2 separate regions of the Homo sapiens genome follow, and region 2 is linked to region 1. The links come from fine-mapping of genetic effects on gene expression. Tissue or cell type: coronary artery. Region 1 holds a variant in brackets; the other region holds the start of a gene. All regions are shown on one strand. Distances are from middle to middle.

Region 1 (5,263 bases):
ATTTTTAGTAGAGATGGGGTTTCACCATGTTAGCCAGGATGATCTCAATCTCCTGACCTCGTGATCCACCTGCCTCGGCCTCCCAAAGTGCTGGGATTACAGGCGTGAGCCATCGCGCCCAGCCTGTTTCTTGTTTTTTAATAGCTTTTTTGAGATATAATTCACATATCATACAATTTACTTATTTAAGGTAAACAATCTAATGGTTTTTAGTACATTCACAGATTTGTACAACCATCACTCCAATTTTACAACTTTTCATTACCCCAGACAGAATCTTTGCACCCACTGGCAGTCATTCCCCATTTACCTTCAAACCCCTCAGCTTCTAGCAACAGCTAATCTATCTTCTGTCTCTACAGATTTGCCTATTCTGGACATTTCATATAAATGAAATCATACAATATGTGGTCTTTTGTGACTGGCATGAAAGATGAAAGAAAAGTAAAAAACAGCATTTTAGCAGGGTTCAAGTAGAATTTGCTTTCGATAAGTGAATTTATTTAGAGAGAATTAAATTTAGAATAGAAATGTTATGTGATTTTGAAATGTGCACAATAAATCAAAATGTAAAGTATCTACAGAAACTATATAAAGAAATGGTACATTCTTGGAAAATAGCACAGAATTAAAAACACAGGTGTTCAAATAATTGGATTTGCTGATTTTAAAACTCAGTATTAAGTATGCCAATTATTCACAAGAAAATCTGAAATGTCATCTTTGTCTTACACTAAATGTTAAATTAGCAACATGCAGTATTCACAAGCACATTGAAACAACTCTGCCTTGACTCCCATCAGCTAGCACTGACATACATACAGAACAACACTGGACACTAACACAGCTCATGCAACTTCTCCTCCTACCTGATTTTGGCTTTTCTTGGTCTATTAGTCGTCTCCTCTTCCGCATCAAACAGTGAAACATCTTCAGTGTCATCATTACTATCCTGGTTGGAAAAATAAATGGTCAAGAAGCAAAACAAAATTCAGTGTTTACACAGCCACTGCAATGCAAAGCTGCATACTCATCAAAATAGAAGATAAAATAATGTGGTTACAGCATCAGGAATTCAAAACCTAGAAAAGGACACATGCAGATCCTCCACCCGCCTCCTCAAATCATCTGGCAAAAACCCCAGAGAATAATCGAAGTCTCAGCTCCTCCATCCCTGCCCCTAGGCTGCACCATCTGAGAAAACTCTGGGGTGCAGATGAGGCTACTACAACTTAACACCTGTCCTCCTCACCTGTTCTCTCCCAAGTCACAGAGCAAGCCGAGGCTACTGGGGATAATCTCAAGGTTTCTGGCTCCTTCACAAAATCATCTGACTGCATCCTTAGTTCCATGACCCCTTCTCACAACTCCTCCTCTTCTTATCCAAGGCTAAACCAATTATTTGTGCTCAGAATAACTTCTTTTCATGCCTCCTCGGGGATTTGTTTCATCATTTTCCCCTGTATTTACACTTTCTTCTATCTTCAAGTCTATCTATTGGATCTTTCTTTTTTGTTGTTGTTGAAATGGGGTTTTGCTCATCACCCAGGCTGGAGTACAATGGCACGATCTTGGCTCACTGCAACCTCCGCCTCCCGGGTTCAAACGATTCTCCTGCTTCAGCCTTCCAAGTTGCTGGGATTACAGGCGTGTGCCACCACACCCAGCTAATTTTCATATTTTTAGTTGAGACGGGGTTTCACCATGTTGGCCAGGCTGGTCTTGAACTCCTGACCTCAGGTGATCTGTCCGCCTCAGCCTCCCAAAGTGCTGGGATTACAGGCCTGAGCCACCACGCCTGGCCTCTATTGAATCTTTCTAATCAGCATATGCATATAAACTTCTTCAAGGCCACTTATTAGGCAAAAAAAGATTTTTTTAAGAACCCTGATCCTGAATCTCCTCTTCAATCCTCTACCTTCCCAAAGCATTGCTTCCTTTTACCTTAGGCTTTTTTTTTTTTTTTTGAGATGGAGTCTTGCTCTGTCGCTCAGGCTGGAGTGCAGTGGCGTGGCCTCAACTCACTGCAACCTCTGCCTCCTGGGTTCAAGTGATTCTCCTGCCTCACCTTCCCAAGTAGCTGGGACTACAGGCGCGTGCCACCATGCCTGGCTAATTTTTTGTATTTTTTTAGTAGAGACAGGTTTCACCGTGTTAACCAGGAGATTTCATGACCTTGTGATCCACCCGCCTCGGCCTCCCAATTGCTGGGATTACAGGCGTGAGCCACCATGCCCGGCCCCATAACCTTAGGCTTCTAAGAGTGGTTCACACCTCAATTCACTGCAATTCCCCTCAACTACAACAAACCTGATCCTGTTCCTCTCCTAGCGCCACTCACCAGCCTCCCTGCCTTTATCCCTCTCTATTCCAGCCTCTCCTTTACATTACCCAGAGCAATCCTCCCAATATGGAAATCACACCATGTCACTCTACTGCTCAAATTTTTCAATGGCATCCCTACAAGTATAGGATAAAATTTAACTCCTTCACATAAAGCATAGAAGATCACAGAATCTAATGCCCCCTACTTGCTTCTGACACTGTCTTCATTGAGCACTGTTGAGCACTGAAGCAATACTGTTACTACATGGTCTCTAAGAACACTACGGTCTCTCTCCCATCTCCTGCCTTTCACATGTTGTCTCAGAAAACTCTTCCCTTCCCCATGCCCTGCTCACCACCAAATACCAAATCATCCTTCAAGTTTTTTAGCTCAAATACTGAAATAGCTGAAAACCTGTCTCTGAAATCCCCATGTTCCCACAGCACTTGGACGAATCTCCATTTGAACAATTATCTCAGAGTATTCTTATTGCACATCTACCCGCTCCTACCTCCATATAGATTAAGCTGCTGGAGGACCTAGAAGACAAGGTTTTTTTTTTTTTTTTTTGAGACAGAGTCTTGCTCTGTCGCCCAGGCTGGAGTACAGTGGTATGGTCTCAGCTTACTGCAACCTCCACCTCCTGGGTTCAAGCTAGATTCTAGTGCCTCAGCCTCCTGAGTAACTGGGATTACAGGAGTGTGTCTCGGCTAATTAGCCTGGCTAATTTTTGTAATTTTAGAAGAGACAGAGTCTCACCACGTTGGCCAGGCTGGTTTCAAACTCCTGACCTCCAGGGATCC[G/A]CCCACCTCACCCCCCCATAGTGCTGGGATTATAGGTGTGAGCCACCACGCCCAACCAAGACTGTCTTTGCATTGTAGTAAATCCTAGTGTCTAGCAGAGCATTCAGCCAAGTGGTACAGTATTTGTTGAAGGCATGAGTAAATAAGCAAAGGAGACGATAATATACAGCTGACTGTGATCAGGGCTGAGAAATCTAAGTGCAAATGGGAGCCAGGGAAGGAAGCAAATCATTCCTACTACAGGGCACTGGAGAAGCTTTCTGGAGGAGAGTTTGTCAGCTGGGCCCTGACAGTCCGCGTAGGCCTCCCTAGACTAGGTATATTTTGAAAGGCACAGGTGGGAATACAGGAAGTTTGTCTAAGAAATGGTCAAGTAGCTCATGCAGTAAGTGATGGATGCGAGAAGCTCCTACTGAGCTAAGGCTGAAAAGGTAAAATGGATTCAGATCTATGAAACTAGTGGTTCTCAACCTTGGCTACAATTAGAATGCTCTTTTTCTTAAAAAACAAACAAACAAACAAAAAAAGGCTGATACTTGGGTCCAGCCCTCAGTGGTTCAGATATAATTGCTTTGAGGTGTGATCATAACGTACAGCAAGACTGAGATCCACCGTATGATGTTATGAATAAAAAGCTGAGGCCTTCTGCTCTCGATCCCAACAGTCTAATCGCCATCCAGCGGCCAGGGAGACTTTTTCACATCAAATCCTATCATTCCCCTACTGAAACCTCTCAGCACTATGACTGAAAAACAGACTCCCTATCATGACCTATCATGATCTGGTCCCTGCCAATCTCTAAGACCTTATCTCAGGCCACTCACTCTTCATTAACTGTGGTAGGCTGAATACCTCCTCACCCCTCCCAAAAATGTTTAGGTTCTAATCTCTGGAACCTGTGAATATGTAAATTTACTTGGCAAAAAGAATTTCACAGATGAGATTAAGTTAAGGATCTTGAGGTCAAGAGATCATCCTGGATTACCCAGGCTGGTCAGATGACATGATTACAATGGTCCTTACAAGGGAAACAAAGGAGGGTCAGTGAGAGAAGGTGATGAAACAAGCAAAGTAGAGGTGAGAGACAGAGATTTGAACAGGCTGTGCTGATGGCATTAAGATGGGGAAGGGATCCCAGGTGTTTAGAAGCTGAATCAGGCAAGGAAACTGATTCTCCAGAACCCCTACCCACACCTTGATGTTTAACCCCTTGAGCCTCATTCTGGACTTCTGACCACCAGAACTTTACAACAGTACATATGACTTCACTGCCGCAGTAGCAACAGGAAATTTATACAGTACCTAAGCTCCTGCCAGACTGGCCATTTTTTTTTTTTTTTTTGACACAGGGTCTGGCTCTCGCCCAGGCTGGAGTGCAGTGGAACAATCAGGGGTCACTACTGCAGGCTCTACATCTCAGCCTCCTGAGTACTGCAAGCCACCATATCTAATATTTTAATTTCTTGCAGAAATAGGGTCTCGTTATGTTGCCCAGGCTAGTCTCAAACTCCCGGGCTCAAGCAATTCTCCTGCCTTAGCCTCCCAAAGTGCTACGATTAGAGGCATGAGCCACCATGCCCAGGCTGGCCTTCTTTTCAGTTCCTTAAACATGCCAAACTTGGGCCCCGTCAGGTTCTTTTGCACTTATGGTTCATATTACCTAGAACACTATTCTCTTACCCTGCTCTTTGAAAGACTGATTTCTTCTCATTTATTCAGTAAATACTGAGTGCCTACCAAGTGCCAGGTACTGCTGTAAGTGGTACAGATTTAAAAAAAAAAAAAAAAAAAAAAAGACAAATAGCTCTGCACTCCTGGAGTTACATTTACTAAGATGGGGAAGACCATGGACACAAAAGATTTCGGGGCAAAATCAGCAGTTTGATTTTGGACATTTTAAGATGCTAAACGACATTTTAAGATGCTAAAACCAAAAAAGCATTGAAAGGGAGATCCATTGGAGTGTTTTAAGTGTAAGACTGCATGTTCTGACTCACCTGTTAGAAAGAGAATTCTGGCTACTGTAGTAAAAATCTGGAGGGGGAGGGGAGAAGAAGGAGGGACAAAAGCACAACGCTAGGAGACTGGTTAGGAAACTACTTTAATCACGAGGCCAAGAAGTAGTGGCTTGGTC
Region 2 (5,000 bases), 89 kb before region 1:
CAAAACACACAAACACACAGTCATATCACAAACACGGAGACACATATGCCTACACATGCACAGACACGCATGCTAACGCCTTCCAATATGGCAGCCAAGGGGCTCTTGCTGTGGTCAGGGAAGAGGGGGAGGGAGCCTGGCCATCCACCGTGGGGAGGACATGCAGCGCGCATCGTGAGGACTCCAGACCCCTGAGGGTGGTAGCAGCAGGAGGGCAACAGAGGATCCTAGAGTTGCTGCACCTGGGGGCAGATCCAGTTGTTACAGGGCCTGAGCATTCTACAGCTGGTGGGGAAACCCTCTTTGTGCCCTGCACAAGTGGTAAGCACTTAGAAGACATCCCTGAAGGAGGGAGAGAAAGGGAGGGAGAGGGAGGGAAAGGGAGGGGGAGGGAGGGCAGAGCCTACCAGGAAGCCTGGAGGAAGCCTGCGACCTGGGACCCAGGTCAGCTCCCTGACCCAGGCCAGTGGGTGAACTGACAAGTGACAGAGTCTGGATTTGAACCCAGGGACTCGGCTGCCCATGTTCTTAACCTGCGTCACCTATCTGCCTCTCTCATACTGACTCAATGTAGCTCAAACAAGTGTAAAGCAAGAGCTTCCAGCACAAACAGTGGGCTTCGGGCTCAGGCCTCCAGAAACACTGCCTGGGGTGGGAGCCTGGGCGCTGGGCCAGCTTCCACCCAGATGGGGAGAAGGGAAGGGCTGCCTCATCTGCAGAAACGAGTCTCTTCTGTTCTCTTCTCCCCACCCCTATCTACACCAAGGTGCATTCATGGATCGCAAGGTTTCTTACTAATTTTTTGTTTCATTCACTGGTGTCTTTTATTCCTTGTTCTAAATTACTTTTTTTAATTTTTACTTTTATAGAGACAGTCTCACTGACACCCAGGCTGGAGTGCAGTGGCACGATCATGGCTCACTGCAGCCTCAAACTCCTGGGCTCACACAGACACACACTCAATACAGACACACACCTGGACTCAAGGGGCCCTCCTGCCTCAGCCTCCAGAGTAGCTGGGACTACAGGTGCACACCAATGCCCAGCTAATTTATTTTTATTTTTATTTTTGTAGAAACGGGGTCTTGCTATGTTGCCTAGGCTGGTCTTGAGTTCTCGGCCTCAAACAATCCTCCTGCCTCAGCCTCCTTAAGTGGTGGGATTACAAGCATGATTAATTATTTTTAAATAAGTGACTTGATTATTATTGTTTTGTAAAAATCCTCTTAGTCACCTTTGTCCCTATAGGTTTCTATAGGTGCTTAATAATTTTTTAAAGGTATTTACCAGTTCTGGCTAAACATTCCTTTGGTCCTGAGCTCTGTGGAGAGGTAATGCATCTGTGGGAACATCATCACCCTCATCCCCAACCCATCACCCCCAGGGGATGGGGGGGAACGGGGGTATATTTTGTGTGTGTGTGTTTTGCTTAAGTAGAGTGGTCAGCCCTGAGTGTACAATAGAATCACCTGGCTGTCATTATAGACATACCTGAGCTCAAGCCCTCTGCAGACAAAGTAAATCAGAATCCTAGGAATGGGACGAGCTTGTTGGCAAGGGTTGGGCATCAGTACGTTTTACAAAGTCCTGAGGGGATTGGGTGACCAGGATTGGGATCCACTTAAGGGAAGTAATGCTGGGGACTCTGGGGACCCTTTAATGGCAGGATTATTCTTTGATGAAGGACCTGACCTTCTCCTGGAAGTTGAGTGTGAGCCTTTTCACTTTCACCCTCGACTTCCCTCTCTGGGGACACCCAGTGTTCTGGCCCAGACTGTTACCTGAGAAGTTTCTGTGATTCCCCATCCTTCCTGCACTATCTTGGCTGTTCCCCTGCCCGGCGTTTATATTTTGTCTCCAGCTGTCCCCTGTGCTCTCAATCCCACTTCTCTTTGGCTCTCTCTTTGCTGCAGCTAACCATCCTCTTGCCCCTGCCCCAAAGTGACCCATGAGCCAGAAGTCAGGAGTGAAGGGGGGCACTGTGACATCAGAAGTTGCCATGCACCCCCTCCTGAATCTTCTGCCCTGCTCTCTTCCTCCTCTGCAGGCTCAGCGGTCACCAGCAATGCAGTCCTCAAACACGGACATTAGAGTGATTATTCCCACCCCCAAGAGTGAACACCTACTATGTGCTGGACCCTAGACCAAACACATACACACATAAAGATACACAACACACACACATGCACACACACACACCCCAACATGCATGACCTCATTTGAGATCTCTGATCATTTCAACAAGCAGTTACTCTGGCCCAGACGCAGCCAACTACAGAGATAGACAAGACCTGTGGTCTCTTTCCTTAGTGCCAGAATCTCCTAGAAGGTCTATTAAGACAGATTGCTGGGTCCCACTCCCAGGGTCTCTGATTCAGTATATGTGGGGTGGGGCCCAAGAACTTGCCTTTCTAACAAGCTCTCAGCCTTCTTCTGAAATAAAATCCTCTTTAGATAAGCTGGAGAGAGAATGGCTGTCACTAACAGGCTGTTGAGAATTAGCCTCCTTCTCCCCAACTCCATTGACCGGCCAGTGCTTGGCAATGGAGAGAGCGAGCAGCTTCTAACCTCCCCTGTGGCCCCAACCGTGAAAAAGTCCCCAAGATGCCAGGAGGACACAGTGCAGAGCAGGCTGTAAAGTCTGGCAGTTTAATTGCAGTCATCAACTCGGGGCAGCACCAGGAGACAGGCTGGACTTGCTCTCCCTGTGTTATCATCATGCCCTGTTGACAATCCTTTGAAATGTCTCTCCCTGTGTCTGTTCCTTCTGCTCCTCTCCACTCCCCCACCACCTCTCCAATCCCAGAGTTCAACCTGTCCAGCCAGGAATGTAAAGTCCCCTCACTTCTCTGCAACCACAGCAAGCACTTGAGCTTCCTCCAAATCATACTGACTCAATCATATATTTCCCACGATCTCCTTTTCTTCATAGTTCTCTATAATCTTCAGAGAGAGGTGCATTCTAGAAAAAGGCCAGGCAGAAAACACCTGTGTTTCAGCCTCAGTTTTATCATTTAGTTGTAAGAAAACATACATCAAGTGGATCCCCAACAAAAATCTACCTCTCCTCACTGCCCACGAGTCAGTACCTAGAGCCTCAGGCAGAGCCCTCATTGCTGCGGTTCTCAAAAAGCCTTTCTCTATCCTCCCCTCTCTCCAGGCTCTAGTTCCTCTTCAACTCCAGCCCTAAACTCCCTGAATTCATTCTCGCTCTGGAGCTCCCGTGTCAGCGGAGCCATGCCTTCAACCTTTCCATGGGCCCCTATTTTGTGGCTCAGTGTCCCTGAGCCCTGAGTATCTCCATTCAGTTCTTCAAACAAGTTCTAGACAAGGGAAGGATCTGAGCAAAGTCACGGAGGTGCGGGACAGCCTGGGCGTCTGGAAATGCTACGGGAAATGCACAGGTGAGGGGGATGGGGGGGAGTTGGGGTGGGCCAGTCTGACAAGGTTCTGCTCTCTCTCCCAGCAAGTCTGGGGAAGACAGTGGACATCTTTGAGTGCACAGGCCAGGTGTGAAGTGTAGCGGATGAGCAGGGGACCTCCCCTGTGGTTCCACAAGAACCTCCAAAGACTCACCCCAGAAGTCTTCTGCAGCTTGAAGTGACTCTCTGAGCTGCTTATACCTAGCGCTGATGTGCAATGGGCCAGGGCCCGGCAGGGAGCCAGACCCTCGGACTCGAGAAAGCCATTTGAGAGTGACATCAGCCCACCACCTGCTAGTGCGCACTCACAGTGTTTCCGGAAGCCATGATGCTAATCATGTCTGTTTCTGTGTTGTCCATGGCAAGACTCCAAGCCCAGAAAAGAAAATCTGTAGCCCAAGTTATTTTCCTCCCACAGGGCTTGCCTGGCCTTTGATTGTTGGCTTTGGGGAGGTGCATTTCTCCCTCCTCTGTGGGCAGCAAATTCCCCGTGAGTCAACAGATCCTGTATCTGGGCTCACCATGGGCTTCTACTGGCACTGAGAAGGGGCAAGCTGAGCAAACATGCAATGTGACCCCAGTGCTGACCAACCCAGAGATGCCCCATGGGACTCAGGGACTTGACCTCAGTGCTTCTGGGGTCCCTCAGTGTATCTTGCTGGCCTCAGCACTGGGCTGCTTGGTAACCTCCCCACAGGCAGGTACTAAGTGCAGCCAGCCCCTTCATTCAAGGCAGAATGAATTAAAAAGCTGGGGTTCCAGAGTTGGCTCCAGGTCACCCATGCACACACCCCATGCCAGGTACTGCTCTCAACTCTTCACACACTAGCTTATTCTGGGCTCAAAACTCCCAGGAATACCTTCGAGGCAGTTTCCACTACTCTAATCCCCATTTTACAAAGTGATGAAACTGAGGCACACAGTTCAGTAAGTTGCCCACGGATACACAATTCATAAGTAGAAAAATCAAAGTGCAAATTCCAGAACGTACACCACTAAGAAGGGGCCACGAGGCAGCTCTCCCCACCTGAGAATCCCCCTGAAATCCATGGTGAGCCTGCCCAGAGCCCCCACCCCTACCCAACTTACATTGGCTGCTCTTCCTTTTGCCCCAGAACCCCAAATAACTGGCCAAATGGACTCAGGTGTATCCCTTTGGCCTCCACGCTCAAGTTTTATATGAAAAAATAAAAAAACACAGAAAAAACTCAATGCGTTAGGTCAGTTTATTAACTCTCCCTCTTGGTCCCCAAATTGCCTTTCAGGGTGTTGAGCAGCTGCACACATCACCCCTTCCTCATGAGGTCCCCTTGGCCCTTTACCTCCAGCTGAGTAAGTCAAAGGAGGACATATGATCAAACCAGGTAGTCCACCGGCTGACCTCTGACCTACAGCCTAGAACAAAAAAGAGGACCTGGGCCAATCCAATTATCTCTCAGGAACGCAAAAGGAGGTAGGAAACGAACAGGCAATTGGCCTCAGAAGCCAAAGCACAGAGGATGCTCTGAGGAACACAAAGGCCACGAGAGGTCTTGACAAACCAAACTTCGATGCAAATTGGTCTATAAACTTCTTAAG

Which allele goes with the higher level. Alleles are on the strand shown, and positions count from the first base shown. SD is a standard deviation of normalised expression in the study named.
With allele A in place of G in region 1, the expression in coronary artery of the gene that starts at base 1,943 in region 2 is lower (large effect, 1.1 SD a copy in GTEx).

The links. PIP is the estimated chance that this variant, and not a neighbour inherited with it, causes the effect.
Region 2: it holds the start of CDRT4, and the variant in region 1 is fine-mapped to the expression of CDRT4 in coronary artery (GTEx, PIP 0.98).

Annotation. Positions count from the first base shown.
Region 1 is chr17:15,554,413-15,559,675 of GRCh38, forward strand. TVP23C-CDRT4 (TVP23C-CDRT4 readthrough) reads right to left here. Exons shown (of 6, transcript NR_037924.2): 2 at 870-952. TVP23C (trans-golgi network vesicle protein 23 homolog C) reads right to left here. Exons shown (of 6, transcript NM_001135036.2): 2 at 870-952. Among named protein-coding and RNA genes, the nearest start is that of TVP23C, 6.4 kb to the right of the region's middle. The variant G/A (reference allele first, on the strand shown) is at 3,130.
Region 2 is chr17:15,465,679-15,470,678 of GRCh38, forward strand. CDRT4 (CMT1A duplicated region transcript 4) reads right to left here and starts at 1,943. Exons shown (of 4, transcript NM_001204477.2): 1 at 1,782-1,943. All of the region lies in intron 4 of TVP23C-CDRT4 (TVP23C-CDRT4 readthrough), which reads right to left. CDRT3 (CMT1A duplicated region transcript 3) reads right to left here. Exons shown (of 1, transcript NR_146601.1): 1 at 4,633-5,000.